2 linked regions of the Homo sapiens genome follow. The protein of the gene in region 1 interacts with the protein of each later gene in a pairwise test. Each region holds a gene or a part of one and is shown in the gene's direction. Other genes may lie near its edges.

Region 1 (5,384 bases):
TCCCTTAGTTTCCATAGATTTATCAATTAGGAATACTTTTGGCTGCAAGTAACAGAAGACCCACATTAAAAGTGCCTTAAATAGTAAAAGCATTCATGTTATGAATCCATGCAACAAAAAGCCTGGAGGTGGGCTGTTCCCGTGTGGGCTTAGCAATATCAGGACTGGAATCTCTGTAGTTCCTCTCATGTCTGTCTTATTGTCCCAAGATGGCTGTTGCAACTCCAGGGATCATGTCTGTGTTGGTCCATTTGCATTGCTGTAAAGGAATGCCTGAAACTGGGTGATTTATAAAGAAAAGAGGTTTATTTGGTTCACAGTTCTGCAGGCTGTACAGGAAGCATGTTGCCAGCCTATGCTTCTGGTGAGGGCCTCAGGAAGCTTAGGACCATGGTGGAAGGGGAAGGGGAGCCACTATGTCACATGGTGAGAGGGAGCAAGAGAGCGAAGCCAGGCTCCTTTAAACAGCCAGCTCACATCAACTCAAAGAGTGAGAATTCACTTGTTACTATGGGGAAGGCACCAAGACATTCATGAGGGATCCACCCCCATGACCCAAGCACTTCCCATCAGGCCCCACCTCCAACCTTGGGGATCACACTTTTTTTTTTTTTTTTGAGACAGAGTCTCGCTCTGTCCCCCAGTCTGGAGTGCAGTGGCGCAATCTCGGCTCACTGCAACCCCCGCCTCCTGGGTTCAAGCCATTCTCCTGCCTCAGCCTCCTAAGTAGCTGGGATTACAGGCACGTGCCACCATGCCCAGCTAATATTTTGTATTTTTAGTAGAGACAGGGTTTCACCATGTTAGCCAGGACGGTCTCAATCTCCTGACCTTGTGATCCACCTGCGTTGGCCTCCCAAAGTGCTGGGATTACAGGTGTGAGCCACCGTGCCCAGCTGGGGATCACATTTCAACATGAGATTTGGAGGGGACAAATATCCAAACCATATCAATCTCCCAAGCAGGACTTGGCCAGGGCCAAAAGCTTTCTCCTCCCAAAGTTCTGTCTTTTTCATTCAGGAAGAAACTCCTTCCCAGAAGCCCCCCAGCAGATTTCCCCTAACGTCTCATTGGCTAGGACTGTGTCACATGGCCACTTCTAACTGCAAGGGAGGCTGGGAAAGTGAGTATTTAGCTTTTTCAGCTTCTAAGTGGAGGCAGGCAAGAGACAACAGTACCTGATATATTCCATAAATGTTAGCAATTTGTATTGTTCTTTCTTCTCTCTCTCTAGGGTACGAGCCCCCCCAAGCCCTCTCACCCCTGCCCCCACCTACCCCATCGCCCCCAGCCTGGCAGGCTCGGGGCCTGGGCACCGCCCGGTTGCAGCTGGTAGAGTTCTCAGCCTTCGTGGAACCGCCAGATGCAGTTGATTCTGTGAGTGAAATTTTGGTACAGTCGCTGAGGGATTTTGAAATATAGAGGGTGACAGGAAGGGAATGTATAAAGTCATGGTTTTAAAACTTTAGCATGTATCAGAATCATCTGAAGGGCTTCTTAAAACAGAGATTGCTTTCTGATTTGCTAGATGTGATGTGGGGCTTGAGAATTTGCATTTCTAATAAGCTACCAGGTGCGTTGATGCAGCTGGTCTGGGGACCGTACTTTGAGAACTACTAGCATAAAGGAACTGGAAGGTCATAGGGTGACAAGTTGGGAAGGTCAGAAAAGCTCCCCAGGACATCATTCATTCATTTATCAAACGTGTTTGAGTTTCTACTGTTCACTAGGCTTTGTGATGCATACTAGGAACTTGGAAAAGATTTTATTTCTGTGCTTGAGCTTCTCCTGGGCTAGGATGGAGTGGGCCGACTGTTAGAAGAAACAGCTCCTAACTCTTAGGGACTGAATGCCAGATAAGTTGCATGTAACATTTCAATGTAGGTTCAGCAGGAGCCTTGGACTCAAGTGATTTGGGGATCCAGGCTCCTTCCATTTTGTGGCTCTGCCATTTTCTAAGGCTTCAGAATCTGCTGATGGAGTCTCTGCATCTGGCCAGCAGATGGAGGAAGGGAGAGAGTCAAGATTGTGCAGGAGGTTTTAGGAATCTGACTTGGATGTGTCGACTCTCAGGCCTGGTCACATCCCATTGGCCAGAACTTAGTCATGTGGTCACACCTAACTGCAAAGCGGCCTGGGAAATGTAGTTTCACACTGTGTAAAGGAACCAGGATTTGTGAACACGTAGCAGTCTCTGCCACACCATATAAACATCAATCAAAACATCAACCACAAGACCTCTGTGGATTCCCATTCATTCACTCTTCCATCCATTGACCATTTATGAGCACCTGTTCTATATAGGACCAGGCCTAGGGGGTGTGAGCTTTGCCCTGGGGCTGCTGGGGAGCTATGGGAGGGCCATGACCAGGGGAGGGTCAGGGGCAGGTCTGGAGCCACATGAGGGATGAACTGGAGAGGCGAGGTTGGAGGCTGGGGTGAGGGTGGGAGGCCTGAGGTGAGGCTGAGGCAGTGAGGATGGAGTTGGGGGAGTTGTGGCAGGGAGTTGGGGACTGTAGGACTGCAGGGCTGCAGGGGACTGGGTGCAGAAGCAGGAGTGGGGACGATGGGTGGCAGTCAGGCCCAGTGCTGGGTGGACTGTGTGGAACAGCTGGCCAGAGCTGTGGGGATGGTGACGGCATTTGGTGGGCTCAGGCAGCACAGGCTGGAGATCCAGCTCACCTCCGACTTCTCACCCACGGCCAACCCTCCTCAGTACCAGAGGCACCTGTTCGTGCACATCAGCCAGCACTGCCCCAGCCCCGGAGCGCCGCCGCTCGAGAGTGTGGACGTCCGGCAGATCTACGACAAATTCCCTGAGAAAAAGGGTGGCCTCCGAGAGCTATATGATCGTGGCCCCCCCCATGCCTTCTTCCTGGTCAAGTTCTGGGTGAGTTCTCACAGCAAAATCAAAAGTGCTCACAAATCCTGTGGTGTCCCAGCAAAGGCCTCTGGCCCTGAGAGAATCTGTCGCGGGCCCTACCAGGTCAGCCTGGGACTTACCAGTCAGTCCTCATGGCTTGGAGTGTCAGCCCCCTTTGCAACAAGGAACACCGAGGAGGCCAGCCCCCAGGGTGGGTTGGAGGTGTCTGGGCCTCCCTGGATCCCACTAGACATTGCCACATGTAACTAATACGGTGAGTTACCTGGCCATGTAGCTAATAGGGTCCTGGGCATGGGCTTGCCATGTTCCAGGCTTCCCTGTGCCCCACCTGACTGCACCAAGCCGTGCTGCTAAGGAAAGACCCCTCCCCGTAGCCAGTGGACTTGTGGAGACTGGTTTCTAAAGAGGGGACTGATGCTTTGCATCAGTTTCACCAGACCTTGTTGCTAGAGAATGTCTGGCTTTGAGGAAGTGATGAAAAGAGCCATGGAGTGGCTTTGCCAAGTCCTGTATTCATTTATTTGTTTATTTATTTATTTTTGAGACATAGTCTCACTGTCACCCAGGCTGGAGTGCAGTGGCTGTATCTTGGCTCACGGCAACCTCCGCCTCCTGGATTCAAGCGATTCTCCTGCCTCAGCCTCCCCAGTAGATTGGACTACAGGCACCCGCCACCACATCTGGCTAATTTTTGTATATTTAGTACAGACGGGGTTTCACCATGTTGGCCAGGCTGGTCTTGAACTCCTGGCCTCAAATGATCTGCCCACCTTGGCCTCCCAAAGTGCTGGGATTACAGGTGTGAGCCACCGCACCCGTCCAAGTCCTGTATTTATGTAGCAATCATTTATTGAGCACTTCCTATATAGACGCCTGGTGTCAGCTGCTATTTATATGATTGGGACTAAGAGGGCCCATCTTGCGTGTTTCTTAGGGCTACTTGGTTTGGTGTCCAGTATGATGACTAACACTACAGGGGTTCAATAAATGTGTTTTATTTTCTTTTATTGTTTTTTTTTTTTTTTTTTTTGAGATGGAATTTTGCTCTTGTTGCCCAGGCTGGAGTGCAATGGTGCGATCTCGGCTCACTGCAACCTCTGCCTCCTGGGTTCAAGCGATTCTCCAGCCTCAGCCTCCCAAGTAGCTGGGATTACAGGCATGCACGACCATGCCCAGCTAATTTTTGTATTTTTAGTAGAGACGGAGTTTCGTCATGTTGGCCAGGCTGATCTTGAACTCCTGACCTCATGTGATCCGCTCACCTTGGCCTCTCCAAGTGCTGGGATTACAGGCATGAGCCACTGCACCTGGCCTAATTTTTGTATTTTTAGTAGAGACAGGGTTTTACCATGTTGGCCAGTCTGGTCTCGAACTCCTGACCTCAAGTGATCCACCCACCTTGGCCTCCCAAAGTGCTGGGATTACAAGTGTGAGCCACAGTGCCTGGCCTGGGCTCAATAAATGTTGCCTGGATGTTTAGGGGGTGCTAGTTCTTATAGTAACAAAGGTGGTGGAGGGATCTAGTCTCTGAGAAGAAAGCCTGGCTAGGTGTGGTGGTTCACTCCTATCTTCCCAGCACTTTGGGAAGCTGAGGCGAGAGTTTCGCTTGTGTTCAAGAGTTTGACACCAGCCTGGGCAACACAGTGAGACCTCAACTCTACAAAAAATGAAAAAAATTAGCTGGGTGTGGTGGTGCGCACCTGTGGTCCTAGCTTCTGTGGAGGCTGAGGCAGGAGGATCACTTAAGCCTGGGAGGTGGAGGCTGCAGTGAGCCAAGATTGTGCCACTGCCCTCCAGCCTGGGTGACAGAATGAGACCCTGCCGAAAGAAAGAAAGGAAGAAAGGAAGAAGGAAAGAAAGGAAAGAAAAGAAAGAAGGAAAGAAAGAAGGAAGGAAGGAAGGAAAGGAAGGAAAGGCCTGCTGAGGGCCTGAACTTTACTGTTCTTGCTGGGAGTGTTGTTGTTCTGGAGCTTGCTGTTCACGGTTCTGGAGCTTTCTGCCATGTGAAGCAGAAGCCTGAAACTGCTCTGGGGATGTGCAGCTGAGGGCTTAGACATTGTTGGGGCTTAAGACAGGCCTTATCAGGTCCCAGGACTGGAGAGCCACCCCCTTAGGAAGCCCAGCTGCTGAAGGGGTTCAGAGGAGCAGCTGGTAAGGTCTTTGGTTTTGCCACGGTGAGAGATGGAGTCGGGCCCCTGAGAAGACGGACCTGGCACAGTGTTAGCAACTAAAGTTAGGAAGAGGAAGAGGTGCGCCTCGCAAGGAGGTGACTCAGACCAAAGGTGTGATGAGCTCTTAGGCTTCCTTAGGCCCCACTTGGCCTAGTGACACTTGGCCAGCTGTCTACACACACTTGGCCACTGGGGTCATGGAGGGAGTCTGACCTCTCAGATTTGGCCGAGGGGGAAGTGCTCTGAGGAGGAGTCAGGCCTCCTCAGGCTCCGTGAGGTCCCGTTGCTAGGGAGTAGCCACTTGCCTTAGCAACCAGAGTGAGAGGGGC
Region 2 (3,853 bases), on another chromosome or scaffold:
CTGTGTTACCCCGGGCGTGGGGGGAGGGGCCCGTCACTCGTGAGCACAGCTTCTCCCTTTGTTCTTTAGAAGGGCACGAGGTCGCCCCTCCTGAGCCTCCTGAGAGGAAGTGTGCACGCTTGGACTTTGGGAAGGATTTCCTCTGTCTAGGCAGCGATTTGGGAAAGCAGCCGTGGGGTGGGCATATATATGGGGAGGAGAACACTTGGAAGCCAAAATCCAGTCCTTCCTGGGCCTCTCCTGCTCAGGCCCCAGACCAAACCTCTGCCATCCACAGGGCCACACCCAGCCTGGCCTCCATGGCCCCTGTGCCCTTAGGGGTCCTGCAGGTGTGTCAGGAGCCTCCCAGAGTGCTATGAGCAGATTATGGGAAGTACCCAGCTGGGCTCCAGGCCTAGCTCCACCCCAGTCTCAGCGGGTCCCTGCCCGGGGTTGAGTGCCTTGGCATCTTCGAAGCCGAGTTTCCTCCTCCTCCTCGCAGCTCTGACAGTGCTCTGTGTGCCTCTGAGATAGACCCACGCAGGGTGTCCCCAGGGCAGGTTTCCCAACCTCGAATGAGAAGGTTGGGGGCGGGCACTGCATCAGCCTAGGATGAGGCGGCCTGAGCATTCTCCTGTCCCCCACAGTTCTGACCTGTGGTCCAGAGGGGCCATGCCGTCCCCTGCTCTACCCAGGCCTGGTCCTTGACAGCCCCTGCAGGCGCTGAGGTTGGGACAGCCAGGGTCCACATCCCTCCTGGCTTTGTGATGAGCTCGTGGCGAGGCCATGCGGCTCTTTAAGCAGCCTCTCTAGGGCTGCAGTCAAGGCTGGGGTGTGCTGGGAAAGCAACCCTGAAAGCCCAGCCTGTGCAGGTGGAGGACAGGCCCAAGAGGGGCTGAGGAAGCTGGAGGGAGGAGAGAGCTGGGGGGAGCGAGGAAGCGGCCGCTGGACAGGGAGGGAGAAGAGCTGGGGGCAGGCACATGGCGCCCTCATCTCCCCCATTCTCTGTCCTCGCTATGGCTCCCCGAGTCTCACCATGCAAGCTGCACAGTTTTGGGTAGGAGAGGAAGCCACTTGGTGTAAGTTCCTGGGCAAGAAGCCACTTGGTGAAGAGGAAGAAAAAGAAGGCTTTTCACTTTTCCTTTCACCTCTGACTGTGGCCTGGTAACCCTGGGGTTGTCCCTGCTTTTTTCTGACCTTCCCTGGGAATTCCCAGGAGGCCCTAAGATTGTGGATGTAAATCTTGGTGCTTCAGGACAGCAGAGAAGAGAACTGGCTAAATAGAATCTGGTCTGCCTGTGTGATAAGTGGGTTAGAACCAGAGGCAGGCCACAGGGCAACAGGGCCGGCCCCTCCAGAGTCCAGCCCCCAATGGAACTTCTCACCAGGAACCCAGAGATCCTGTGCACAGCCCAGCACATTCCTCCCCCTCCCCACTTCCCCTGACATGTTTGCCTTCCCTCCAATTGCAGGTGGTGACTTCTTTTTATAGGAGAGCTGTAGACAAAGGAGAAAGCTAAAAGGGATTGACATAGCCTCTGACGAGATGATTCTTTGGTCTCTGGGCACCAACTGAACCGGAAAGCTGGCAACACAGTGCCAGGCCTCGGCTGACTGGCCGTGCGAGTGATGCCGGGCAGAGGAAGGGCCAGGCAGAGTGTGCAGCGAAGACAGGCCCTCGCCCTTAAGCACCTTCCAGGCTAGTGCGAGCCTCAGGAAGAGGTGGCAGAGTCTGAGATGTGCCAGCCAGCACTCCACACGCTTGGTGCTGACTACCAGTATGTCACTGCTCGTCCCTGGGCCTCAATTATCTAGGCCGTGAAATGGAGCTGATAGCCTCCCTCGTTACCTCACAGGGTTACTGGGGAAAGAGATCAGATCCAGGCTGAGGGCAGGCCCTGGAAAGTACAATGAGCGCGGGAGTCCGAGGACTGCCTGTCACAGCCTCCTCCTCTTCCCCGCAGGGCCACCCGTTCATCGTGCAGTTCAATGATGGAAATGCCGCCGTGGTGTCCATGTGGGTGTGCCGGGCGCTGGAGGAGAGGCGGAGCCAGCAGGGGCCCCCGTGAGGCTGCCGCAGGGCACTGAAAGCCCAGGACCAGTAACCAAGGAGAACAACCCACCCGTCGCCCTTCTCCGTATGCTGCCTGCGCCAGAAGAGCTTTGCTGGGCCCTGGCTTCCCTGCCCTCGCCTTCACCTCTGTCAGCAGGTGGCCTTGCCTGGGGAGCCCCATGTGTGGCCCACCCCACCAGGCCATCCCCATACCTTCTGGTTTGAAGGCGCTGACACTGGCAGAGAGGTAAAGGGTGGGGCATTGAGAATGGAGGCTCCCAGGGTCCCTGCCCACTTCTGTTTTCCTAATGTTTTTCTCTATAAAGGGTCAGGCCCGTCAGCATCACTGATGGGAATAAAAGTATTAATGCTTTGTGACAGCCTCTGCCATAAGAGTTGTGTGGTCCAGGGGGTCTGTGACCCCCCCCAGGGCTGGGGGCAGGTGGGATCTCCACTTCAGCAGGGATGTGTGTGACAGTGCCTGCTGCCTGCCCAGGCACCTGCAAGCCTCCTGCTAGCTCCTCGCAGTTGTGCTGAGGCCCACAGCCCAGCTCCACTGTCAGATGAGAAACAGAAGCACGGAGGCATTGGGATGGGTCCCATGGCAAGGAGTAGGCCCGGATCTCAGGCCCCCGCCATGAGCTCCTTACTGGACTGCCAGACACATCCACCTGACCTGCGTGGCTGAGGAGGGAGTGGGCTGTTCTGAGAGGCCCTTCTCCACCCCAGCCCCACCCCTGCTCCTCACTGCCCTTGACCCCACACCTGCCACCTCTCACCTCTCAGGAAATCCCCTCAGCCACATGCCAGGTAAGCCTGGCTACCCCCATTTTGCAGGTGAGGAGCTGAGGCTCCAAGGGGCTCAGGATTCCACTTGAAGGTCTGAATAGCATCTCAACACGTCCAGAAGCAAATTCCTAATCCCCCACCCCACCCAGACCTCCTCCTACTGCTTTCCTGTGTCAGTAAATGGCATCTCCATCCTCCCAGTGCCCAAGCCATTTGGCACTCCCTAAAATGCCAGGACATGGCTTTGACTCCCTTTTCACACCCACATCCAGTCCTGCTGTCTTTGCCTTCAAAGAATATTGGTTCCATCACCCAAAATTCTCTCTTGACTCCAGCCAGTTGGTCTTCTTGCTGCTCCTTGAACATCCGGGCACATAACCACCCAGGGTCACAGCAGAGACGTCTAGCCATGGAAGGTTCACACTCCCTCCACAGGGTACCGCGTTGCTAGGGAGCCACTGCCCAGCTGGGCTTCCATCTCATGGGTGGGATTGGTGCTATTATAAAGGGTGAGTTTGGAGCCAGGCACAATGGCTCTCGCCTGTAACCCCAACACTTTGGGAGGTCGAGGGGGGAGGATTGCTTCAGCCCGAGTTCAAGACCAGCCTTAGCCAACATAGTGAGACCCTGTCTCTAACAAAACTTAAAAAATTAGCAGGGTGTGGTGGTGCATGCCTGTGGTCCCAGCTACTTGAGAGGCTGAGGTGGGAGGATCTCTTGAGCTCGGGAGGTTGAGGCTAAATGAGCCGTGATGGCACCACCGCACTCCAGCCTGAATGACAGTGAGACCCTGTCTCAAAAATAAATAAAAATAGTGAGCTAGGGATCAATTATTTTGATGGGGTTTTATATGTTACTAGCAGCTAGTATTATGCCAGCTAATGTAGGCCTTTGCATTTGGTACCTGGAGCATGCTTCCCTCATGCATCCACATGGCTCACCTCTATACCCTTCAGGTCTCAGCTCAAATGGCATCTCAGTGAAACCTACTTAACCACTCTAAAATCGCACCCCTCCCGCACCTGCCCTGGG

The links.
Region 2: the proteins of TEAD2 (region 1) and MAP2K5 come close enough for resonance energy transfer, tested with the Homo sapiens proteins (one large-scale study listed by BioGRID).

What each region holds. Positions count from the first base shown.
Region 1 is NC_000019.10:49,344,696-49,350,079, reverse strand, and holds part of TEAD2 (transcriptional enhancer factor TEF-4), read left to right. Parts: intron 1-1,020; coding exon of another isoform or gene 1,021-1,123; intron 1,124-1,234; coding exon 1,235-1,377; intron 1,378-2,716; coding exon 2,717-2,890; intron 2,891-5,384. UniProt on the Homo sapiens protein: Transcription factor which plays a key role in the Hippo signaling pathway, a pathway involved in organ size control and tumor suppression by restricting proliferation and promoting apoptosis.
Region 2 is NC_000015.10:67,804,703-67,808,555, forward strand, and holds the end of MAP2K5 (dual specificity mitogen-activated protein kinase kinase 5), read left to right. Parts: intron 1-1,943; coding exon 1,944-2,048; 3' UTR 2,049-2,412; downstream 2,413-3,853. UniProt on the Homo sapiens protein: Acts as a scaffold for the formation of a ternary MAP3K2/MAP3K3-MAP3K5-MAPK7 signaling complex.